Homo sapiens: one gene and its partners. The protein of the gene in region 1 interacts with the protein of each later gene in a biochemical or structural test. Each region holds a gene or a part of one and is shown in the gene's direction. Other genes may lie near its edges.

The links.
Region 2: the proteins of KIF5B (region 1) and MYO5A form a complex in vitro, tested with the Homo sapiens proteins (one study listed by BioGRID).
Region 3: the proteins of KIF5B (region 1) and KLC1 form a complex in vitro, tested with the Homo sapiens proteins (one study listed by BioGRID).
Region 4: the proteins of KIF5B (region 1) and YWHAH interact in far-western blotting, tested with the Homo sapiens proteins (one study listed by BioGRID).

What each region holds. Positions count from the first base shown.
Region 1 is NC_000010.11:32,008,498-32,011,442, reverse strand, and holds the end of KIF5B (kinesin-1 heavy chain), read left to right. Parts: 3' UTR 1-2,428; downstream 2,429-2,945. UniProt on the Homo sapiens protein: Microtubule-dependent motor required for normal distribution of mitochondria and lysosomes. Can induce formation of neurite-like membrane protrusions in non-neuronal cells in a ZFYVE27-dependent manner.
Region 2 is NC_000015.10:52,308,849-52,315,882, reverse strand, and holds part of MYO5A (unconventional myosin-Va), read left to right. Parts: intron 1-1,679; coding exon 1,680-1,760; intron 1,761-2,034; coding exon 2,035-2,187; 3' UTR 2,188-7,034. UniProt on the Homo sapiens protein: Processive actin-based motor that can move in large steps approximating the 36-nm pseudo-repeat of the actin filament. Can hydrolyze ATP in the presence of actin, which is essential for its function as a motor protein. Involved in melanosome transport.
Region 3 is NC_000014.9:103,624,706-103,632,213, forward strand, and holds the start of KLC1 (kinesin light chain 1), read left to right. Parts: upstream 1-4,505; 5' UTR 4,506-4,789; intron 4,790-7,508. UniProt on the Homo sapiens protein: Kinesin is a microtubule-associated force-producing protein that may play a role in organelle transport. The light chain may function in coupling of cargo to the heavy chain or in the modulation of its ATPase activity.
Region 4 is NC_000022.11:31,939,734-31,947,544, forward strand, and holds the start of YWHAH (14-3-3 protein eta), read left to right. Parts: upstream 1-4,801; 5' UTR 4,802-5,000; coding exon 5,001-5,087; intron 5,088-5,100; exon of another isoform or gene 5,101-5,633; intron 5,634-5,766; exon of another isoform or gene 5,767-5,945; intron 5,946-7,730; exon of another isoform or gene 7,731-7,811. UniProt on the Homo sapiens protein: Adapter protein implicated in the regulation of a large spectrum of both general and specialized signaling pathways. Binds to a large number of partners, usually by recognition of a phosphoserine or phosphothreonine motif.

The sequences.
Region 1 (2,945 bases):
TTGGGATTGTAGAATTATAACTTTTAAAAAAAATGTATAAATTATACCTGGCCTGTACAGCTGTTTCCTACCTACTCTTCTTGTAAACTCTGCTGCTTCCCAACACAACTAGAGTGCAATTTTGGCATCTTAGGAGGGAAAAAGGACAGTTTACAACTGTGGCCCTATTTATTACACAGTTTGTCTATCGTGTCTTAAATTTAGTCTTTACTGTGCCAAGCTAACTGTACCTTATAGGACTGTACTTTTTGTATTTTTTGTGTATGTTTATTTTTTAATCTCAGTTTAAATTACCTAGCTGCTACTGCTTCTTGTTTTTCTTTTCCTATTAAAACGTCTTCCTTTTTTTTTCTTAAGAGAAAATGGAACATTTAGGTTAAATGTCTTTAAATTTTACCACTTAACAACACTACATGCCCATAAAATATATCCAGTCAGTACTGTATTTTAAAATCCCTTGAAATGATGATATCAGGGTTAAAATTACTTGTATTGTTTCTGAAGTTTGCTCCTGAAAACTACTGTTTGAGCACTGAAACGTTACAAATGCCTAATAGGCATTTGAGACTGAGCAAGGCTACTTGTTATCTCATGAAATGCCTGTTGCCGAGTTATTTTGAATAGAAATATTTTAAAGTATCAAAAGCAGATCTTAGTTTAAGGGAGTTTGGAAAAGGAATTATATTTCTCTTTTTCCTGATTCTGTACTCAACAAGTCTTGATGGAATTAAAATACTCTGCTTTATTCTGGTGAGCCTGCTAGCTAATATAAGTATTGGACAGGTAATAATTTGTCATCTTTAATATTAGTAAAATGAATTAAGATATTATAGGATTAAACATAATTTTATACGGTTAGTACTTTATTGGCCGACCTAAATTTATAGCGTGTGGAAATTGAGAAAAATGAAGAAACAGGACAGATATATGATGAATTAAAAATATATATAGGTCAATTTTGGTCTGAAATCCCTGAGGTGTTTTTAACCTGCTACACTAATTTGTACACTAATTTATTTCTTTAGTCTAGAAATAGTAAATTGTTTGCAAGTCACTAATAATCATTAGATAAATTATTTTCTTGGCCATAGCCGATAATTTTGTAATCAGTACTAAGTGTATACGTATTTTTGCCACTTTTTCCTCAGATGATTAAAGTAAGTCAACAGCTTATTTTAGGAAACTGTAAAAGTAATAGGGAAAGAGATTTCACTATTTGCTTCATCAGTGGTAGGGGGGCGGTGACTGCAACTGTGTTAGCAGAAATTCACAGAGAATGGGGATTTAAGGTTAGCAGAGAAACTTGGAAAGTTCTGTGTTAGGATCTTGCTGGCAGAATTAACTTTTTGCAAAAGTTTTATACACAGATATTTGTATTAAATTTGGAGCCATAGTCAGAAGACTCAGATCATAATTGGCTTATTTTTCTATTTCCGTAACTATTGTAATTTCCACTTTTGTAATAATTTTGATTTAAAATATAAATTTATTTATTTATTTTTTTAATAGTCAAAAATCTTTGCTGTTGTAGTCTGCAACCTCTAAAATGATTGTGTTGCTTTTAGGATTGATCAGAAGAAACACTCCAAAAATTGAGATGAAATGTTGGTGCAGCCAGTTATAAGTAATATAGTTAACAAGCAAAAAAAGTGCTGCCACCTTTTATGATGATTTTCTAAATGGAGAAACATTTGGCTGCATCCACATAGACCTTTATGTTTTGTTTTCAGTTGAAAACTTGCCTCCTTTGGCAACATTCGTAAATGAAGCAGAATTTTTTTTTCTCTTTTTTCCAAATATGTTAGTTTTGTTCTTGTAAGATGTATCATGGGTATTGGTGCTGTGTAATGAACAACGAATTTTAATTAGCATGTGGTTCAGAATATACAATGTTAGGTTTTTAAAAAGTATCTTGATGGTTCTTTTCTATTTATAATTTCAGACTTTCATAAAGTGTACCAAGAATTTCATAAATTTGTTTTCAGTGAACTGCTTTTTGCTATGGTAGGTCATTAAACACAGCACTTACTCTTAAAAATGAAAATTTCTGATCATCTAGGATATTGACACATTTCAATTTGCAGTGTCTTTTTGACTGGATATATTAACGTTCCTCTGAATGGCATTGATAGATGGTTCAGAAGAGAAACTCAATGAAATAAAGAGAATATTTATTCATGGCGATTAATTAAATTATTTGCCTAACTTAAGAAAACTACTGTGCGTAACTCTCAGTTTGTGCTTAACTCCATTTGACATGAGGTGACAGAAGAGAGTCTGAGTCTACCTGTGGAATATGTTGGTTTATTTTCAGTGCTTGAAGATACATTCACAAATACTTGGTTTGGGAAGACACCGTTTAATTTTAAGTTAACTTGCATGTTGTAAATGCGTTTTATGTTTAAATAAAGAGGAAAATTTTTTGAAATGTAATGACTTTCTTAAAACTTAAGTGTTAGGTTGATTTTACATGGCTGAGTTCAGGCCTTCTGTCTTGACAGAATAGTGACTGATATGTCATTATATTTATGTATATTTTGTTTCCTAATGTCTTGCAGCCTTTTGGACCGCAGATATTAAATGTATAGGCTAAAGAGCTAGAAATGAATGACCAGTCTCACATATAAAACTTTTTTTTTTTTTTTTTTTTTTTTTGAGATAGAGTCTTGCTCTGTCGCCCAGGCTGGAGTGCAGTGGTGTGATCTCGGCTCACCGCAACTCTTATCACCTGGATTCTAGTGATTCTCCTGCCTTAGCCTCCCAAGTAACTGGGATTACAGGCATATGCCACCACGCCCAACTAATTTTTGTATTTGTATTAGAGATGGGGTTTCACCATGTTGGCCAGGCTGGTCTCGAACTCCTGACCTCATGTGATCCTCCTGCCTCGGCCTCCAAAAGTACTGGGATTACAGGCGCGAGCCACTGCACCCGACCGGTGTCAC
Region 2 (7,034 bases), on another chromosome or scaffold:
TCAATCAGTTTGAGACCAGCCTGACCAACATGGTGAAACCCCATCTCTACTAAAAATACAAAAATTAGCCGGGCATGGTGGCAGGCACCTGTAATCCCAGCTACTCTGGAGGCTGAGGCAGGAGAATTGCTGGAACCTGGGAGACGGAGGTTGCAGTGAGCCAAGATTGCACCACTGCACTCCAGCCTGGGCAACAGAAAAAATCAGTAGGCCAGGCGTGCTGGCTCACACCTGTAATCCCAGCACTTTGGGAGGCTGAGGCAGACAGATCACCTGAGGTCAGGAGTTCAAGACCAGCCAGGCCAACATGGTGAAACCCCATCTCTACAAAAATACAAAAATTAGCCAGGCATTGTGGCGGGTGCCTGTAATCCCAGCTACTTGGGAGGCTGAGGCAGGAGAATGACTTGAACCTGGGAGGCAGAAGTGGCAGTGAGCCAAGATTGTGCCACTGCACAGAGACTTCATCTCAAAAAAAAAAAAAGTCAATCAGTAGACAATCAGAATCAAGACTTGCAGCTTCTTAATGTTGAATTCATGTTTGCATAACTTCTTACTAAGAATAAAGCAGAACTATCTGACAGAACAATGGTCCTGAGATTTCCTCCCAGTTTCTGCAAGTGTGGAAAGTAAGAATACCCTGGAGGAAGCCCAACTTTATAGAAGTTGGCTGCCATTCAACTTCTAAAGAATATACTTTAATACTTAAATATACTTTAAGCATATTTCACAGAGTGAGGCAGACCTGCAGTTTATTTATTTAGCAAATATTAGTTAACAAAGTGGTCCCACTTTTTAAAATTCAAATACTTGCCTCCGAGAGACTGATCCCTAATTCAGTTTGTCACCCACAGACCTGATAACAACATGCCCACTTTCTAGTTCTCTGGTGCTTAATTTATTTTCCTATAGATCAGCACTGTCCTGCATTCAACTTTTATTTTCATTTTGTGTTAATAGCCACATGTGGCTAGTGACTACTACTGTTGTATTGGACAGCACAGGTTTAGACAATACCTTGAAAATGGAAATATCTACCTTATATAGACGATGATTTATTTTCATTAGAAAAGAGACATGACCATTTTACAAAAAAAAATTATTGAACTTTTTAAAAAAGAACTTCATACTCTCTAATTGATTAATTTCTTTAGGGGCTTTTGTTATTCATGTTATTTATGATCTTTTATAAAAATATGATTTAAAAAACATTCAAAAGAGATAATTGTATTAATACGGCTAACATTTTTATATGGAGAAAAGTTGCAGAATAGTATTAATAGAATGAATCCCATTTGTATAAAAATAAAATGAACTAGAATATTTATAGCAGCTAGAGGGGGTGTTCAGGACATGGTTAACAATTGCCACTTTGGGAGACTGGAAGGATGGAAGTGCGGACATTTATTTTTCATGTTTTATTCTCTTGTGCTATTTGAATATCTTCGAAATTTACACAGCTTCTTACAATATTACACAAACATTACATTGATACATTCTCTTGTAAAAATTCAGATAAAGGTAAATGTGCAGACCAGCTCCTCCTTCCTTCTGGTCCCAGCCCACCCCTGAGTAGAACTGAAATCTGTACGCACAGATCCTTTTAATTTTCCAGATTATAGGTACCCAGTGTGTATTTGATAATATGCCAAAAACTTTGATCATTTCATTTCTCACAGATTGTGAAAGTGTTGAATTTGTATACTCCAGTTAATGAGTTTGAAGAAAGAGTCTCTGTGTCGTTCATTCGTACTATACAGGTAAGAGCTCCCATCTTCTTCTTTGATTCACCAACACAGTCTTTTGAATGGACATTTTGTAATTTATTGAAGGATAATGTGTTATCTTTTATTATCTTATTTTACAATGCACTAACTTTTTTGATAATAGTTAATTGGGAAAATGAAGTGAGTTTAAAACAAAAGTAAACATTCTTCATTAGTTGAGAATTTGAGGGTAGAAATTTTAGTAGAAAAAAGTCTTTTAGATTCAAAGAACTGATGCTCTGTTTATTTTTTTTCCTAATCTTCTCAGATGCGTTTACGAGACAGGAAAGACTCTCCCCAGCTGCTCATGGATGCTAAACACATCTTTCCTGTCACCTTTCCTTTCAACCCATCTTCCCTCGCACTAGAAACCATCCAGATTCCAGCCAGCCTCGGCCTGGGCTTCATTTCACGGGTCTGAAAGTGATGTCCAGGCAAAAATTGACAATACATTTCTTGCCCGAAATAAGAACCCATTATTTCCAGTGAGTTACTGAAAATACATTTTTAAAGAGAAAGTACTGATTATCTCCCAAATGAGAAGTCATTAACTGGAAATCTCCCTAGAATACTTTCATCACTTTGGAAACAAAGATAGGCTCTTTCGTGCTGTGTTATCTTTATAGCAACACTCATCCTTAACCAACTAGGTACCGTGAGTTTACATACAGGAGAATGATGGAAGGAAGGGAGGAAGGAAAGGAGGAGAAAAATGTGTCTTCAGCTGGCAGCATTTATTTTAAATCCTTAGCACTGAGTTTGAATGGTATAAAAAGTATAACTTCCATAGATGAGCTGTTGTTAGGAAGGCACCAAAGAACCTCCTCTGCACTAAACAGGAGAATGGAAAGAAAAGTCTCCATTGAGTACATATCATGTCAGTTTAGTAATCAATTATGTTGATATTGTTAAACTGGTTCAAAGAAATAAACTGGCAATATGTAAAGTAATTCCTCATTTGTGTCACTATGATATAGAGATATTAAAGGAATGTTGGTTTGCTAAATAGTATAGATGTCCATTTGTACTATAGTTTACTGAGCATTTTAAATTGCTGCTACATACTGTCTTCTTAAAATGTAAGTGATATTAGGCACTACAATAAGTTTCTCTTGTCAATTCTGTTTACAATTCAATCAGATCACAGTTTTAACTGGATTATATGCAAATACCTACAGATTCACCTGCACAAGTAGCAGACACTGGAAAGTCATGTAGTAATATGACAAAATGCTTGACATTTAGGGGTAGGATTAGACAAAGTGGCTATTGTTGATGTCATTATTTATTCAGGATGTATTACATTGATGTGCTCATTAATTTTCCCTGGGTGGATATTGCGTCAGGGTACAGTGTTCTGTGAAGTGACTTATTTTTAACTACCAGATCTGATTCCTTCAGTGCATATTTTCAACCTTGACAGGTTTTCTCTCTTCTTAATTTATTAAGAATTAATCTCGGCTGGGCGCGGTGGCTCACGCCTGTAATCCCAGCACTTTGGGAAGCCAAGGTGGGCGGATCACTTCAGGTTAGGAGTTGGAGACCAGCCTGGCCAACATGGCGAAACCCTGTCTCTACTAAAAATACAAAAATTAGCCGGGCGTGGTGGCACTTGCCTGTAATCCCAGCTACTCGGGAGGCTGAGGCACGAGAATCGATTAAACCTGGGAGGCGGAGATTGCAATGAGATCGAACCACTGCACTCCAGCCTGGGTGACAGAGAGAGACACTGCCTTGGAAAAAAAAAGAATCTCACTCACTATCTAGAGAGGATTGTCAGAATATTCACGATTCAGGTCTTGAAACTTTGATTATGCAAAAGAAGGTATATAATAAATATTTCATTATGATTCAGTTTTTAAGGCTTTGCAGCTTCTATAAGTGTTCTCAGATGCCACTAGATAATTTTAAAAGCATCATATTAGAAATACTTTAAGAAGACTTATATAAGAAATAGAAGATTGTTGAATTTTACAGAGGATTTGGTTCATTAAGACCCAGATTCTGTAAGTTTTCATTCTGAAATTCTAGTTAAACATATTCACCATTTTTCTTAGGAATCTTATACAATAAATCCTTCAGGTTGCACAAAAGCAAATTATTAGTTTTCATTAGAAACTCTGGTTCTGAATTACAATCATAGGTTATATAAATTTAACTGTTAGATGGTCTATAAATCTTATTAAAATATGTGCAATATTTATGGAAGTCAAACAGCTTCATATCAGTGATAAAGATTGTTATTAAAAGATAAATACTGTCTGTTAATTTACATGGGCCTCAAGTTCCTCGTTTATAAAATAAGAGAGTTGGACACTGATTCTTAACATCTCCTCCACATTTAAAATTCTCTCTTCTCAGCCCTTAGATTCTAGAGAGAAAAAGCTGCAGTTACTCAGTAAGTCCATTCTCTGATGGAAAGACCAGTGTGTAGTGCCTGTCAATTCCTTAGGATTAATCAAATGTAAAATCACAAGTTTGTGTAGCTGTAACCTTTCTTAAATGTACATGATTTATGTACATGCTTTTAGAAGGTCCTACTATATTTGTATTATAATTAGTTTAAGTAATTTTTATTACATCATGTATTGCTTTATTCAGTTTGAATACATTTATTTATTTATTTGCAGTATCAACCAGAAACACTACCAATTGCATCAAATTCTCCCAGTTTTTCCTGGTTGTCAATGCGGTTTTCAATGCACAATTAAGTCATAGCCATTTGGTTCGTACCAAATGTGTCAGAATCTAACAGCATCCGATAGGCTGTAAGTTGGGGAGTTGCTAAGAAAATGCAACGTGGTACAGGCTGTCCGCCTCAGCCCTGGAAATCTCCCAGACCTCCCCCAGCTTCATCCTGTGTAGCACGACTCAACGTGCACCCTGAATCTTCTCAGGTCTTCCAGGTCATGCTGTAGCTGTCACTGCCATGCAGCCCTTTTTTTTACTCCGGACAGCTCATGTACTGAAGCGTCATGAAAGAAAGGCTGTGGTCTGAGCCCTTCTCTCCCATCTCCTGTCTTTGTCCTGTCAAGTGCTGGAGCCAGAGCTCCTACAGCTGCCCTTGGTGGTTTCTCCTGTTCAGCGATGGTGGCACAAAGGTTCTGCTATTCCAGGGCTCCAGCTTCCTCCCAGGTCTACCCAGAGCTCCAGATGGGGGTCTGAATTAACCTCTCTTGGTGGCCTGGAGATTTTTAGTCATTGACAAGAATACCTTGTAACCAGGGAACCCCAAGGCCCAGTAAATGATTCTGTATACCATTTTCTTGAAGGTACAAGAAGATTCTGCCGACTATGGGGATCTTTGGGCCAGTTTGAGGATTGCTTTCCCTCTGAGGTTCTTTCTCTCTGTCAGCCACACTTTCTCACCCAACTTCAGACACACCCTGCCAGCCTTTCCCCTACTCATTCACTCTTCCCCTTCCCTCAACTTAATCGTCTATCCCGTTGCCTGCTGTTTGACTGTGCACTGAAGGCAGGTGGATGGAGTCAGTCCTCAGTTGCCCCTGCTGGCCTTCCTGGTGCTTACCATCAGCCCAATCTTTGCACAGTCCTTGTTGTTCTTACTTCTCTGCATGCATTCCTTCAGAAGATCAGTCATCAACTTTTTCTTAATTCCTCTGTGACACACAATGGGAATTCAAAGGAAGAGATCTTAAAAGTCACAACAGTTCTTTATCTTAATAATCCCCTCCCCATTCACCTTACTACATGCAGACTCACCTCACACCCTTACAACTTGAAGCTGAAAATTTAAAAGTAATTTCCCTTTTTGCAGCTTTTCCTCAGGTTAAGGCTTTGATCTGCCTGAGAGTAACTCTAAAAGGAGGGAAGATAAATATGGGATAAAATCCACAAAGTGTAGCTTCTAATTCCTTTGGAAGTTTAAAAAATTTCCACATATCTGATGCTTCTTTTGTCAGGTGCAGAAGCACAAAAACATATTCCGAAGCCAACTGATAGGGAATTTGGGGATTATTGTCAGTTTGGAGAATTTGCTGTGTTATTTCTTCATTTCCATGGATAGCTCATAGTTGGCTCTTTCTGGGTGAGTAATTATGTGTAATATAGATCAAATCTTTTACTAAGGTTACAGCTACATGTTAGGGGAGGCTATGAAAATACTATATTATTATAATTTCAGTGCAGTGATTGTTGTGAGAAATAACTTTCATGGTAACCCTAGGAAAATGGGCACCTGCCACCATCCTGAGAAGTCCTCACACAATGCCCTTTCTCTCTTACACACACACACACACACATACACACACACACACCCCCGTCACTAATTCATAGAGTTCCTTAGCAGGCATAGTCAAGGATCCTCTGGGTAATGTCAGCTGCTTAGTGATAAAACAGAGCCAAAACTAGTGCATCCTGTTGAAAGTAATGCAGAAACAGTACCTGGGTCCAGATATGCTTTCCTGCGGCGCTTTCCTCTGTTACCTCGTTTCATCCTCACAGCAGCATGGACGGTAGGTGGGGTCGCTTCTACAATCATTTCTGATGATAGCTTGGGAATAGAGATAGGGGCAGTGACTTGCCTGATGTCGCACAGCCCTCTGGCTGTCCTGCTTTCCCATATGGAGCAGTGGTGGTGTGGGCACCTGTGATGCAGGAGACTTTAAAAATGTCGTGAGGTCACGTGCTGCCCCTCCTGGTACGTGTGGAATGCCCCTGGCCAGCAAGGGGTGCTTTTTTATCAGAGTTGGCAGCTGGCATGTGGGAACCGAGCAAGTGCTGCGTACCAAGTTACTTGTTTTAAGGAGACCAAGTGCTCAGCGCCAGGTGGTTTTCTTTTTTGTCATAGTTACTTGCTATAACTCAGCTTGACTTCTGTCATGAATCAGTGCTCTCTGGGAGGATGCAATACTCTGTTTGGGCATTAATTGGTAGCAGGTTGTCTCAACCAAAAAGACAGGAAACAGCAAAAGCCTCTCTGAAATTAAGAGGAAAGTTACTCTCCCCACACCCATCAGAGTCTTTATTGGAGCCACCAGGTGAGCTGTGCAGCCTGGACAGGCCTGCAGCTATAGGCCACCTTCCCAGTTTAGGTCCTCAGCACAGGGGAGCCCAAGTCACTGGGTGCCTTCCGAGGGCTGTCACTGGGCAGGCCATATACAAGTCAGTGTGTGCGTGGGCACTGCAGTGTGTGCATGCCGTAGGTGTTGATGGGTGCTAGGAGGGGTGTCGTGTGCATGCGCGTTGAAGAGGATCTGTATTGCCGTGACCTCTGTTCATGGATGAGTGCATTGTAATTTGTTCTCA
Region 3 (7,508 bases), on another chromosome or scaffold:
CAGGCATGGTGGCAGGCACCTGTAATCCCAGCTACTCGGGAGGCTGAGGCAGGAGAATTGCTTGAACTCTGCAGGGCGGAGGTTGCAGTGAGCCGAGATTGCACCACTGCACTCCAGCCTGGGCAACAGAGTGAGACTCCGTTTCAATAAAAAAAAAAAAAAAAGAAAGAAAGGAAAAAACACCCTGGAAATCAGAGGAATTGCATTTTTAGAATTGAAGCCTGAGACCAGAGAGGGTGTGACCTGTGGCTGAGAGCAACGCGGGCCAGATCCCAGATTAGCCAGGTCCGGATGCCAGGCAGCCCCTCCCTGGACCAGCACGCCCGTCCGGTGACTCGTCCCTAAGCCTCGTGCTGACAAGGAGGGTGAGCAGGCTGCGGGGAGGGGTCAGAGCTGTGTGGAGTCAACCAGCCTGCTCTTCCCATGGCCTGTGCTTCCCCCGCCCCAGCCCCTCCAGCCAGGTCACCCCTCCCAGCCAGAGGATGGGCACCTGAGTACAGCTGCCAGCCAGGGACAGGCTTCAGGCTGCCTCCACCCTGCCCTTCTTCTTCTCTCCCTCTTTCCTCCCCACCCTCTTCCTCCCTCCTTTCTTCAGGCATTCACAGACAGGGCTGCCCACAAGGCTGCAGATCCTCAAGAACCAAAGGGAAATTCCTGCCTGCTTGTCTCTTCCAAAAAGCCGCTCGCAAAGACAGACATCTACAAACATCTACAGTAAAAAGATGAATAGTGTAAAAAATAACAACTTCCTGTTCCATTCTCCACTTGAGACAAACGGGACTGCATGGTTTGTTGCATGTGGGCACTGCACTTCCTTCCTGTGGTCCCCCCACCTGCCACGGGAGTGTCCCTCTCCCTCATCTCCTGGATCCCCGAGGGACGCAGGGCTCCCCTCTGCACTTCTTCAGGCCTCTCATCTTAGTTCCTGCTGGCCGTCAGCTCACTTGTCCAGGGCACCCGGTTCTGTTGCCCAGCCTGGCACCTGATACTAGCAGTTCTCAATGAATACTGAGAATGACGTGAATATGAAAAATTGTAGGCTCTATGCTTGCCTCCGATGTCCCAGGGGCCTGGCAAATGGCAGAAGGTGGGTAGTTCCCCCCCTCCTTTTTTTTTTTTGAGACAGGGTCTCACTCTGTTGCTCAGGCTGGAGTGCAGTGACACAGTCATAGCTCACTACAGCCTTGACCTCCTGGGCTCAAGTGATCCTTCCACCTCAGTTCAGCCTTCTGAGTAGCTGAGACTATAAGGGTGCATCACCATGCCTGGATAATTAAAAAAAATTTTTTTTGTAGAGTCAGGGTCTTACTATGTTGCCCAGGTTGTCCATGCCTTTTAACCCCAGGCAGTACCTTAGGAGCCCAACCTAGGAGCTGCTAACGGCTCCAAGGACTGCAGGATCTCCTGAGGATCATGGCAGAAGTCAGGGACTTAAGGGACCCGAAGAGTCTGCTCCCCTTGAAAAGGGAGCAAGAGCAGCATCTCTGTGCAAAGGAAGCCTGGAGAAGCAGCAGCCCAGCCCTCCTCTCATGCTTGCTTGAGGGTTGCCCTTGCAGCTGCGTCAGGTGCTGAGCAGGCTGTGGGGAAGAGGACACCAGCCCCTCCTGTTCTCTGCTTACAGGCTGAGGAGAAGGCAGCTGTGTAAGCTGACCACATACTACACATTGGGGAAGGGACAGGTGGGTGGTCAGAGGAGGCCTTGACCCAGGCAGGTGCTGTCAGAAGCGGCTTCCCCCAGGAAGTGACGATCATTTGAATCCTGGAGCACTGGGGGGAATGGGGGAGGGAGAACATTCTAGGCACAGTGAATACTATGTACAGGGGCATGGCTATGTGAGAGACCAGGGTGAACTCAGGAACAGATAAGGGTGTTCAGAGCACAGGAGACCAGGAGGTTGGCAGCACCAGGCCCTGGGGGCCTTGTTGACCAACCCAAGGAATTTGAAGTTGCTGCAGACAGTGATGCGTGGCAGCACTGGTGGATGAATTGGCCTTTTCTCCTTTCCCCCAACACTCCAGGGTCATTCCTGCCTGAGGACTCCTGCCCTCAGAGCTCTCCTGGGGCTTTTATTTATTTTGTTTTGAGACAGAATGTGGCTCTGTTGCCCAGGCTTGAGTGCAGTGGTGTGATCTTGGCTCACTGCAACCTCTGCCTCCCAGGTTCAAGCGATTCTCCTGCCTCAGCCTCCCGAGTAGCTGGGACTACAGACGTGCGCCACCACGCCTGGCTAATTTGTTGTATTTTAGCAGAGATGTGGTTTCACTGTGTTGCCCAGGTTGGTCTTGAACTCCTGAAGGCAATCCACCTGCCTCGGCCTCCTGAAGTGTTGGGATTACAGGCGTGAGCCACCTCGCCGGCCTCTCCTGGGGCTTTGAACGCCTGCCTCCCTCCTCTCATTTGGGTCTCAGGTCACCCGCCTGCCTCTGAGTTCACCCCTGACCACCTAGACTCTGCCTGTTCCATCATCTTTGTTCCATCTCTGCCTGTTCCATCATCTCGGCAAGATCCGGTATTTCCTTATGTGTTTATGGCCTACTTCTCCTCACTGGAATGTAAACTCTTAGAAAGCAGAGATCTTATCTATCTTGTTCACCTATGCATCCTTGGCTGTTATGAGGATCATGGGAGAGCAACAAATATTTATTGAGGAAATAAAAGAACAAGGTAATAAAGCCAGAACAAAGTGGTGGCAGTGGAGATGGATTCAAGAAATACTGAGAGGCCGGGCATGGTGGCTCACACCTGTAATCTCAGCACTTTGGGAGGCCAGCTGGGAGGATCACTTGTGGCCAGGAGTTCGAGATCAGTCTGGGCAACATAGCAAGATCTCCTCTCTGCAAAAAATTTAAAAAACATTAGCTGGGAGTGGTGGTGCACACCTGTAGTCCCTAGCTACTTGGGAGGCTGAGGCAAGAGGATCTCTTGAGCCCAGGAGTTCGAGGTTACGGTGAGCTGATTGCCACTGCCCTCCAGTCAGGGTGACAAAGATACCCTAACTCAAAGAAATATTGAGGAAGTAGAATCTTTTCCACCTGTTGTAGTAGGGCGTAAGGGAGCGGTGCAGGCATCCCAGGTTTCTGGCTAGGGTTGTGGGTGAGCAGAGGGGACAGTTACTGGGCGCAGCGGCACAGAAAGAATGAGCAGTCGATGCTTGGCGGTGCCCAGCCCAGTGGCTGAACTTAGTGACATCCAAGCTGCAGTCTGGCTGAAATCACTAACCTGAAAGTGGTATGGAGAAAGTTTGTTTGACCCTGACTCAGTGCCTCTCCCCGGGCCAACCCTACCGTGTTACCTAGGAGCTCCCCCTTTGTCTTTATAAATGAGATAAAAGTAACCAGACCTCCCTGGAAAAACCGAGGAGCACTTGCTTCTCTGGTGACTGCGGGGCCTAACTGCAGGGTTCACAAAGGGCTGCTGGTGCTGGGTGATAACATCGGAAAGGAACAGCAGTTCACAAGATGGGGCTGGGGGACTGGCCCAGGAACCCCTCCAGGTTAAATGATGCCTCCGGGCCCCGCACTTGGGACGTCTGCAGGCACTGGGAGGGTTTTTCCCAAGCCGCTGGCAGCAGCGAGCGGAGCCTCGCCCATTGAATCAGCATGCCCTCCCGGCTGGCTGCTGAGTCAGGCCTGCGGAGCCGGCGAAGCCGCAGGACTTGACCCAGGCGCGCTCCGCTGCCCTTCAGGCCGGGCTGGAGGTCGAGGCCCTGCAGCCAGGGAGATGCGCCGGTGGCTGCGTGGGGACAGAGGGGGGTTGTCTCCCACCCTCACAGTCTACACCCCGGCCCTTCCCCTTTGCCCGTCTGAGGCGCAGTTTGTGTCGAGGGGGAGCGCCTGGAAAGTTTCCTCGTACAGATACGAGGGTCCAAAAGCCCCGAGGAGAGGGAATAATGAGAAGGGGAGGGCGCAGGGTTAGAGGTCAGGGTCTCGACCAAAGGCTGTCGGTTTTCCTGGAGGAGGGAGAAAGGCCTGGCCGGGATCATCTGATTCCGGGGCCTCCCGAAGGCCTCCTAGCTGGGTTTTGGGGGGACCGAAACGAGCGCATGAAGCTCGCGGGCCTGGGAGTGGGGTGGGGCGGGAGCCCAGTGGTGGCGGCTGCGGCCGGGCCTGCACCGTCCCCGGCCGCATTCTGGTAGGGCCCACAGTCCGGCTGGAAGGGAAGCTGCCGAAGCGCTCGGTCATCGCGGCTGCGGAGTCGGAGAGGCCAGGGCCTGGCCGCCCACCCCGCGAGCCGCGCCCTGCCCCGAGCGCCCCACCCCCGTCCGCGTTACAACCGGGAGGCCCGCTGGGTCCTGCACCGTCACCCTCCTCCCTGTGACCGCCCACCTGATACCCAAACAACTTTCTCGCCCCTCCAGTCCCCAGCTCGCCGAGCGCTTGCGGGGAGCCACCCAGCCTCAGTTTCCCCAGCCCCGGGCGGGGCGAGGGGCGATGACGTCATGCCGGCGCGCGGCATTGTGGGGCGGGGCGAGGCGGGGCGCCGGGGGGAGCAACACTGAGACGCCATTTTCGGCGGCGGGAGCGGCGCAGGCGGCCGAGCGGGACTGGCTGGGTCGGCTGGGCTGCTGGTGCGAGGAGCCGCGGGGCTGTGCTCGGCGGCCAAGGGGACAGCGCGTGGGTGGCCGAGGATGCTGCGGGGCGGTAGCTCCGGCGCCCCTAGCTGGTGACTGCTGCGCCGTGCCTCACACAGCCGAGGCGGGCTCGGCGCACAGTCGCTGCTCCGCGCGCGCGCCCGGCGGCGCTCCAGGTGCTGACAGCGCGAGAGAGCGCGGCCCTCAGGAGCAAGGCGGTGAGTCCCCGGCGTGCGCCCCGGACCGCGGCCCCCTCCTCATCCTCCGCCCCGTCCCTGTCCCGCTCCTCTTCGGACCCGCCCCGGCCGTAACTCTGTCCCCATCCAGGCCTCCTTCCCGGTTTGGGTCCCGGCCCCTCTCCGTTCCCACCCCGGTACCCGCCCCAGTTCACCGCCCCGGCCGGTCCGCGACCCCTTCCAGGTTCAGGTCGGGTTCTTGTCCCCGGCCCTTTTGCCAGCCCCGGCTCCCGGCGCCGCGCGTCCTCCCCATCCGCGTCCCACTGCAGGTTCCGGTCCCCGGCCCTGCCCAGGGCCCCGCCCTGGCCCCGCATCCCCGGCTTGGCCCTGCTGCGGGCGGCGGCGGCCGTTCCCGGGGACAGCTGTGGACCCCGGGAACCCGCGACAGGGGAGGTGGCTGACCCCGGGATCGCGGCGGGCGGGGAGGCCGGAGGCCCGGCGGGGCTGGCTTTGTCCGATTCCTCCTCTTCCTTCCACCCCCGCCTCTCCCGGCACCGCCCTGAGCGGACGCGCCTGTCATTCTCGCGGGCGGCGGGGGGCCGGGTCCCTCCCGAGAGCTGGCTCCGCTTTGCCTCCTTGGCGACCCCTTATTTTCAGTAACCAGATGCGAAACGTTTCAGGCGACCCTGTTCACCTAGGCTGGCGTTGCTCCAACTAAACTTGAAGCAGCCTCCGTCCTGGAATGCTTTTTCCATGTAAAATTGGGTGTACCCTTTTCCTTAAGAAAATTAAAATAAAGCGTAAAAGTAGTGAAATTAATGCGTGATGGAGTGGATGGTTTTATAACTTAACATTTGTAGGTCATTTCTAGGTATATTTGTATTAGAATTGTTGCTGCCTGTTACTGTTTTATTATTTAAATGAATTAAGAATTTACATATTAAGCGTTTGAAAAGGAATACTTACAAAAATGATGTTTTTTAAAAATGTGAGAACAAAAAATTTGAGATATACTATTTCAGGTGTTCTGTAAAAGGGCAGTTAGAGCTTTGATTCTTTGCATTAGTTAAATCCCAAGGCCTTTTTTTTTGGTACGGCATGACTAAGCCATTGATCAGAATCAGCTCGGAATACATTGCACTAGTTTAGTGAAAGACACTTTAGAAAACTGGAAGAACCTCCTGAAGTTATATTACAGACATGGCCTTGCTTCTTTCAGGGATTGTCAGCAAGCCTGTTATGGTGAGAAATTTGACCTATTGCTCTGTTTCCTAAATATTTGTAGGAATACAATGATACTAAGTATGAAGTATATTTCAACTTGTATGGAATTCTGTGTGGGAGGGTAGGCACTCTAAAGAGCCAGTGTCTCTCCAAGTCATCAAAGAATGCAGCATCATGTTGCAGTTGAGCCTGGCAGCCCTGTCTGGCACTGAGTGCTGTGGAGGACCCAGGTGGTAACCTCTAACCCTACTGCAGCCTTGGCATTGTCTTAGAGAAAAGCATCCAGACATGCACAGGACTCTGGACAGCGTTTATCTCCAGCAAGGGGGGAGGGAATGACACTGGGGAGAGGCACACAGTATCTTCAGTATTTCATAGCAAATAACTGCAGTCGTTTAAACTTACACATTTTTTTTTTTTTTGAGATGGAGTCTCGCTCTGTCGCCCGGGCTGGAGTGTAGTGGCGCGATCTCGGCTCACTGCAAGCTCCGCCTCCCGGGTTCACGCCATTCTCCTGCCTCAACCTACTGAGTAGCTGGGACCACAGGCGCCCGCCACCACGCCCGGTTAATTTTTTGTATTTTTAGTAGAGATGGGGTTTCAACATGTTAGCCAGGTTGGTCTTGATCTCCTGACCTCGTGATCCGCCCACCTCGGCCTCCCAAAGTGCTGGGATTACAGGCGTGAGCCACCGCACCTGGCCCAAATTTATACATTTTTAAAATTTATACATTCTTAGGCATGTTTCTCAATGTTGGAAAAAAGTCAATGTGTAACTTTCTGTATAGGGCCATAAATTATCTTAAAACATACTTGTATAAAAAGAAACCTAGGATAGAAAAATCAAAAGTTGAGTGAAATGTATGATTAGTATCACCTGAAAACATTCTTTGTAGATAAGTGGAATGTTAGAAACCAGTATTTTATTTTTATTTATTTAGAGATGAGTCTCACTGTGTGGCTCAGGCTAGAGTGCAGTGGTGTGATCCCCGCTCACTGCAACCTCCGCCTCCCAGGTTCCAGTGATTCTCCTGCCTCAGCCTCCCTAGTAGCTGGGATTACAGGTGCCCACTACCACACCAGGCTGATTTTTTGTATTTTTAGTAGAGACGGGGCTTCACCATGTTGGCCAGGCTGGTCTCAAACTGCTGACCTCAGGCGATCCACCCGCCTCAGCCTCCCAAAGTGCTAGGGTTACAGGTGTGAGCCATTGCACCTGGGCTGAAACCAGTATTTTATGTAGCAAAGAAATGATCAGTAATATACTCAAGACGAGAGTATTTGGGAAGATTTAAGTGTCAAATTTCAGGGCATAGAATAAAAGTGACAAGCACATTAAGATTGCAAATACTGGTCTTAAATGTCTGTTGGGAACCAACTGAATGGCAGGTACTGTGCTGAGTAGTCAGCGATACCTTGATAAAAGAGCCACTGTTGGCCGGGCGTGGTCATGCCTGTAATCTTAACTCTTTGGGAGGCTGAGGCTGCAGATCGCCCCTAGCTCTTTGGGAGGCCGAGGCAGGTGGATCACCTGAGG
Region 4 (7,811 bases), on another chromosome or scaffold:
CCGGGATTCAAGCGATTCTCCTGCCTCAGCCTCCTGAGTAGCTGGGATTACAGGTGCCTGCCACCACGCCCAGCTAATTTTTTGTATTTTTAGTACAGATGGGGTTTCACCATGTTGGTCAGGCTGGTTTCAAACTCCTGTCCTCAGGTGATCCACCCACCTTGGCCTCCCTAAGTGCTGGGATTACAGGCATGAGCCAACATGCCTGACCTTTTTTTTTTTTTTGAGATGGAGACTCACTCTGACGCCCAGGCTGGATGGAGTGCAATGGTGCGATCTCAGCTCACTGCAACCTCTGCCTCCCGGGTTTAAGCAATTCTCCTGTCTCAGCCTCCTGAGTAGCTGGGATTACAGGCGCATACCAACACACCCCGCTAATTTTTGTATTTTTAGTAGAGACAGGGTTTTGCCAAGTTGGCCAAGGTGGTCTCGAACTCCTGACCTCAGGTGATCCACTCGCCTTGGCCTCCCAAAGGGTTGGGATTACAGGCATGAGCCACCACGGCTGGCCAGTTTTTCTTTTTTAAAAATATTTTTTGTAGTCTCAACTACTCGGGAGGCCAAGGCAGGAGAATTGCTTGATGAACCTGGGAGGCAGAGGTTGCAGTGAACTGAGATCATGCCACTGCACTCCAGCCTCAGTGACAGAGACAGACTTCATTAAAAAAAAAAAGAAAAAAAAAATATAAAATGTGTGTGTGTGTGTGTGTGTGTGTGTGTGTGTGTGTGTGTATTTTGTTTTCTGTAGAACTGGGGTTTTGCCATGTTGCCCAGGCTGGTTTTGAACTCTTGGCCTCATGTGATCCTTCCACCTCGGCCTCCCAAAGCTCTGGGATTACAGGCATGAGCCACTGTGCCAGGCTATTGGTCCCTTTTTACAAGTGACTTGCCGGAGGGTACTCAGCTGGTGCACTGGCAGGGTAGGATTCGAACCCAAGACAAGAACCACGTTCTTTCTCAAATCACACCACACACGTGTGTTCAGGAACCCGGGGGGGGGGGCGGTTTGTTCTGTTCCCCGAGTGAGACCCTGTACCAGGTGAAGACCCAGACTTGGCTCCTCTACTGGGGACCTGCTCTGAGCCCTGAGGCAACAAAGTGTGTTTGACATTAACCATTGACCTCCCTCACCTCACTCAGGTGCTGTCTTTGACGTTGTTCAAAGGCCCTGTTTATCGATAGGACGTAGAGCCTTGGGAGTAGGTGACCTGTCGCAGGTGGTGACCCTGATTTTTATTGATGAGGCTCTTGGGCGTTAGCAACTCTCTCCCAAGGGCAAAGAAGATGTGTGCTGGTAAGAGTGTGTAGGCCACATGGTGGGAGGCTTATGTATGCTTTGTATAATCTGAGTGACCCCAACAGGGAGTCACACTTTGAGCTCTTCTCAGCTGACACCACGGGGCAGTGTGAGGCCCTCAGACTTGGGTGTCTGATGGATCTGAGTTTGAATCCTTGCTTTGCCCATTCCCAGCTGTGTGACTTTGTTTAAACCATGGGACAGCTCTGTGTCAGTTTGCTTATCTGTAAAACGGGAAGGAGGCCGGGCTCAGTGGCTCACGCCTGTAGTGCCATCACTTGGGAGGCCGAGGTGGGTGGATAGCTTGAGTACAGGAGTTCAAGACCAGCCTGGGCAACATGGCAAAACCCTAGCTCTATTAAACAAACAAATTTTAAAAACTGGCTGGGCGCAGTGGCTCATGCCTGTAATCCCAGCACACTGGGAGGCCGAGGCAGGAGGTACATTTGAGGCCAGGAGTTCAAGACCAGCCTGGCCAACCTGGTGAAATCTCTATTAAAAATACACACAAAAAAATTAGCTGGGCTTGGTGGTGCATGCCTGCAGTCCTAGCTACTCGGGAGGCTGAGGCAGGAGAATAGCTTGAACCTGGGAGGCGGAGATTGCAGTGAGCCAAGATTGTGCCACTGCACTCCAGTCTGGGCAACAGAGCGAGACTCCATCTCTTAGAGAAAAAAACAAACCAAAAAAAAGACTAAAAAATCCATTTAACAGATGAGGCACAAGAGTTTAAATAATTTTCTCTGAAAAAATTAGCTGGGTGCGGTGACGTGCGCCTTGTAGCCCCAGCTACTTGGGAGGCTGAGGCAGGAGGATCGCTTGAACCTGGGAGGCGGAGGTTGCAGTGAGCTAAGAGAGCACTATTGCACTCCAGCCTGGGTGAATGGGTGAGACTCTATCTCAAAACAAAACAAAAGCCAACAAACAAAAAAACAGGAAAGGAAATCGGACCAGCCTTACAGGGGTATCTTGAGGGAAAAAAAAATGCACGTTTCTGCAAAGCACCTTGCCTGGTACTAGGAACATGGTAGATGGTTCCTTAGAGTGCATGAGGATGGGGTCACCAAGGATAGGGCAGTGTGTGAAGAGGGCTCGGGACAAAGCCCTGAGGAACCCTAGTATTTTGGGGTAGGCTAGAAGACAAGCCCATACAGCAAATAGAAGAGCAATGGCCGGAGCAGCAGAAGGGAAGCTGGGAGAGTCGGTCAAGGAAGGGTGAGCAGTCGTGCCCAGTCCAGCCAAGAGGGCCAGGGAGGTGGGCACTATGAAACCTCCTTGGCTTTGACAACAAGGAGGGCTCTGATGGCCACGGTGGAGGAGTAGGGACAGGGTGAGAGCACACTGAGCTGATGGGTGGGTAGGAGGTGAGGAAGAGGAGATGAGGAAGTTTGGTGAGAAGAAAAGCTTCATGGGAGAACCAGAGTGTCCTTTACACATGTCAGAAATCAATTATTTAGAATGCTCCAGCTCTACCTAATTTTCACTGTTTTGAAATCAATCTTAGTCCAACCTCATCAGAAAAGCTGGAAGGGCTCTAAGCCCTCTAAGAGCTAGAAGGAACCGAGGAGGTCCCCCCATCCAGGGCTGGCCCTCCTCCCATCTCTCACTGGGACCCCATCCTTATGGGGGGTGGAGTGGATGATTCATTACTATCTAGCATGCTCTTTAAATATATTCACTAGGGGAAAGATTAGCCTGGTTTGTTAACCTCGATTCCAACAGCAAAAGTGACTCTTCAAAGCATGGTGAAGCCTGGGGTAGTGGCCTCCTCCTAGACCCACATTCAAATCCTGTTTCATGGGCCCCCAGAAGTGTGATCGTTTCAGCATCATAGCAGGAAGAGGAAGGCCTGGGAGGCAGGAAACCTGGTATGGAGACCCCAGCTCTGCTCACTCGCTGTGCAAACTAGGGCCAGCCCCTCCTTTCCCTCAGACCTCAGTTTCCCGTTATTCAGGATAAGGGGTTAGACAGGGGTGATTCTAAGGGTCCTGCCAGCTCTGACATTTCAGCATGTGGATATCTATTCTAAAGTCCTTGAAACAGTTAAGTCCAATTCTCCAGATGGAAAACAGGTCCAGAAAAGGCCTGGTCTCCAGTTCCCTCCCTTCTCCCTTCGAACATGTCTTACTCTCTAGAGCAAGATTCCAGGCCTGAAATATGGCTTCCCAATTACCTAAGGATGAAGCCTCAAATCTTTGGCCTGGCATTTAAAAGACTCCGTAATCTTGTTTTACCCAACCTCACTTCCCATTCTTAGGCCTCTCTTCTCACCATCTCCCAGGTCACTGCCAAGCCTTTGCCAATGCTGTACCCCAGGCCTTAATCTTTTTCCTGACTCTCCTTCAAGATCCAGCTTATCCCTGTGGGCTGAGCATGCAGTAGATGCTCAATAAAATTCTCAGCGAGCCCAAGGCCCCCTCTCCTGCACTGCCCTTGGCGTGTTGAAATCAAGTGGGGGCCTTGTTTTAATCATCATTTTCCTAGCTTGTCGGGCAGCCCAGTCCAGGGCCTGGCACAAGGGACCCTCAGCATCCAATACCAGCCAGGATTGGGAGGGGCTCAGTGACCAGCCAGTTGGGCCACCCCAGCTCTTTGCCACAAGAGAAAGTTCAGCCTGGGTTTGGACTCAGATCCTGGCCCCACCACTTACAGGCTGCGTAACCCTGAGCAAGTCACTAACCTCGCTTTTCCTCAGGTTCCACGTTTTAAATATGGGGAGACCAGCTGTGCCCACTGTGGGCTGGGTAGTGAGGATTAAAGAGGAGGATGCTTGTACGGGACTAGCACTGGGCTGGCTCCTAATGTGTCCTGAATATTACTTGTCCCGCCCTGGCCACCCAGTCCCCTCCTCTGGTGGAAGGCACAGCCTGCCCAAGGCTACGTCTCAGGTTGGGTTCGATTGTGTGTGTCTGTGTAGCGGGGCTGTCCCCGAGGGTCGGACTCGATCCTGCCCGGACCAGTACAAGGTGTGGCCCAGCAGAACGCATGGACAGGCAGGGCTCGGGGCGGGCGGGACGGCTGGGGCGGGGCTGGGCGGACCCGCCCCTCGGGGCACGCGGTCTCCCGGCTTCTCCGCCAGTATGTTTGCTTGCTTTTGGGGCCCTTCTCAAGCCAGATCTCTAACGTGGATGGAGTGGCGCGTTTCAGGGTGGGGCTATGACAATGCACTGCCTGTGCAGCCGCCATCACCGCGCCCCCTCCACCGGCTCCGCAGTCTCCTGCCCGGCTTTCCCTTCTCCACCTCCATCTCTGCGGCGGTAAAATGCAGCACTCGCAGAGCGCCTGCGCGGCTTTCAGGCCGGGCGGCGGCGGCGGCGGTGGCTATTTATAGTAGGTGACGTCACCTTGAAATAGACCGTTAGGGCCGGCCCGCCCTTCCCCCCTCCCACTCCCGCCGCTCCCCGCCGCCCGGCCTGGCCACTCTCACTGCGCAGGCGTCGTCCCGTCCTCCCATCCCCCAGCGCGGCCGCGTCTCCTCCCTCGGCGTTGTCCGCGGCGCGAGCCACAGCGCGCGGGGCGAGCCAGCGAGAGGGCGCGAGCGGCGGCGCTGCCTGCAGCCTGCAGCCTGCAGCCTCCGGCCGGCCGGCGAGCCAGTGCGCGTGCGCGGCGGCGGCCTCCGCAGCGACCGGGGAGCGGACTGACCGGCGGGAGGGCTAGCGAGCCAGCGGTGTGAGGCGCGAGGCGAGGCCGAGCCGCGAGCGACATGGGGGACCGGGAGCAGCTGCTGCAGCGGGCGCGGCTGGCCGAGCAGGCGGAGCGCTACGACGACATGGCCTCCGCTATGAAGGCGGTGAGCGCGCCGGGAGCCCGGGCGGCTGGCCGGGGGGGGCCTGGCGTTGGGGAGGGACGGGGATGGCCGCGGGCGCGTTCCCCTCCCGGCCATGGGCGACCCGGCGACCCGGCTGGGCGTGGCCGCCCGCCCGCCCTTAGCCCGCGCTTCCCGCTCCCGCTGGGCGCCCCGCCACTTCCTGAGGCTGGGCCCAGGGTGGGGGATCCGGGAGGGTGCAGTTCGGGATCGCGAAGGCAGCCCCGGAAGGGGGGCGGGCCGGTCGGGGTCGCCACATCTTAGTTCGGAACCCGGCCGGGGGCAGAGGGTGCCCTAGGGGACGCGAAGGAGCCGCATTTCTCCTAGAGCGTTTCACCGGACCCGGGGGCTCCCCCTCTCGTCTTCCTCCGTTCCCCAACTTGGAATAAAGAATCACCTAGTAAGTGGCGCCCTGTCTCAGCTGGTTTTCTCTGCCACGACCTGAAGTCTGCAATTCCGATCTGTTTTGCTCTGCTCGTTCGAATTGTTCTGGTTCCATCTTCCCACGCCTGGGGGTCTGGCTTTGTGTGCGAAGACCCCTTTCCTGCAGTCTAGGCGTGGACGGGGGCGGGAGAGTGGGCGGAGGGTGTGGGGCCCCACTCCACAGCCCCAGGTTTGCTGCTGCGCTGTCTGCTTGGAGATTAAAATGAAACGTGACTTCTAGGTGAGACGAATCTGTGTGTCTTTGCATTCCTGAGACCCTCATAAATCGATTCTGCAGCTTCTCCGGTGGATGAGTCGTGCCCAGCCACACCCTAGCAAAATACCGTGGGTCACACACCACCTGCATTTCTGAGTTCCGGTTACCATCTCACTCTCTCTCCACGTTATTTTACGTTTTCTGTAAATGAATATTTCCTCTCCCTGCGTCAAGGTCACACAGTGGTAGAACAACTGCGACCACCAACCTATGTTCAGTGTACAACCTCCTGAGACCTGGGAGGATCCCCTTGAACTCCGCCTTAGACCTATACATTCAGAAATTCGGGCGGTGAGACTCAGACATCTGCATTGTAACCAGCTCTCACAGGCGATTTTTAGCTGGCTTAAGTCTGAGAATTACTGCCCATGATTATAGTAAATGTATCCTTTGCTGGCCTTTTGGAGGGAGTTCCGAAAAAAAACTGCCAATACAAAGGCTCCCTAAAATCTTAAGTCATTTGGAAAGCTCATTTGAAGGCTTTTGATGTTAATATCAGATGAAATATGTAGTTGGGGCCAATATTTAGGATTGTTCAGGTAAGAAAGGTGCTTGAAGAGTTGCCTTTCCTCTGGTGTCCTTGTTACACACATAACTGGGTGTGTTTGGAAACCAGCAACACCGTTGCCCGTATGTTGATTTGTTGGTGATCTTGACTTGAGCACTATTAGCATGCTGTTGTGGTGAGGCAGGTTTTCTTCCAGACCGGGGGACGGTCTAGGTCTGGAGGCTGAACTTTATGTAATTCAGGGGGTCCTTTAAAAGAAAATCTAAAATATAGTTTTGCATATTTTACAAAAATGGGACTGACGAATGCATTTCCTTGGAAGGGACCCTGAACCTTAATTTTCTGTGGGATAAAGCTGCCTCTGTCCACAGCAGGTCACACTTAAGCCCCTCCTCCCCAGTAACTGAGTGGTGCTGGGATTATGCAGGCTGAGGCCTCTCCACACATTTTCATGAAGTGGTTGCTCACCCTCTAAGTGAGACGTAAAGACTGCAGTGTTCGGAGCCCTTTGGGAAATAAATGTGGTGAAAAGAAAGGAGGGACGAGGTTTAAAGGAAGGGGAAATGGAGGTTAAGGAAAAATGGCTAGAAGGTGTGTTCTGGAACAATCAGAAACCTGAGGCAACTTGAAATGGGGGAAAAAGGCAAGAATGGAGAGATGTTACCAGAACGAAATCTAGTTTGAGCAGAGAAAAAGACTGGCTTTCTAGTAGGCTTGTAAAATGCTTTCCTGCAGCAAGCTACTTGTGTCCATAGATCTTCTCTGGAGGGTTAAGGTAGCCTTTTGTAAACCAAAGGAATCTATAATATCTATATTTGAAATAATTAATGAGTTGGAAAAGCCACCCAGCGTAGAAGAGTCAATCCAAGCTTTAATTCTGCCATCTCAGAATGGTGATAAACCATTTCTCCCCCATCATCTAAATGGAATATATTGTGCTTATAGGTATTTTCTTTAAAAGAAAAAAAAGAATATATTGGAAGGGACTGGCAGGGGTCACTTTCCCTGCTAACTTGGTGTTTGTAGATTAAATTCTTAATGTTACTGGGATGACTCAGTCTCTATGTTATTAATCTCATCAGCCTTAACTAAGGCTTTTGGAAAGGGTGTAAGTTTCAGTAACCCTCTGGGTTTACCTGGGCTTTCTTCAGGGCTGGGGAAGGGCAGGTAAGTAGCCTGCTGTAGGGAGGATGGAGCAGGACACATGTGTTAAGGATATATTCTGATGCCACCAGTCTGTAACCTTGAAACTTACATCTTGGCTTTAGGTCCTCTGAAGTATAAAACTAGTGATGTTGCTGTTATTAACAAGTCAGTTTTGCCTTCAGTCTTCTAACTTGTTTTCTGTTTCCTTCATAATTAAAATGCTCACTTGATAATACTGCCTTCCTGTAATGATTGATGTTCCTCATTCTACCAGCGTCACCTGGAGGACAGTGTTGGTAAGCTTGAAGAAAAATCGTGCATACTGGAAACAATGGTCTTGCCTCAAACCTGTTGA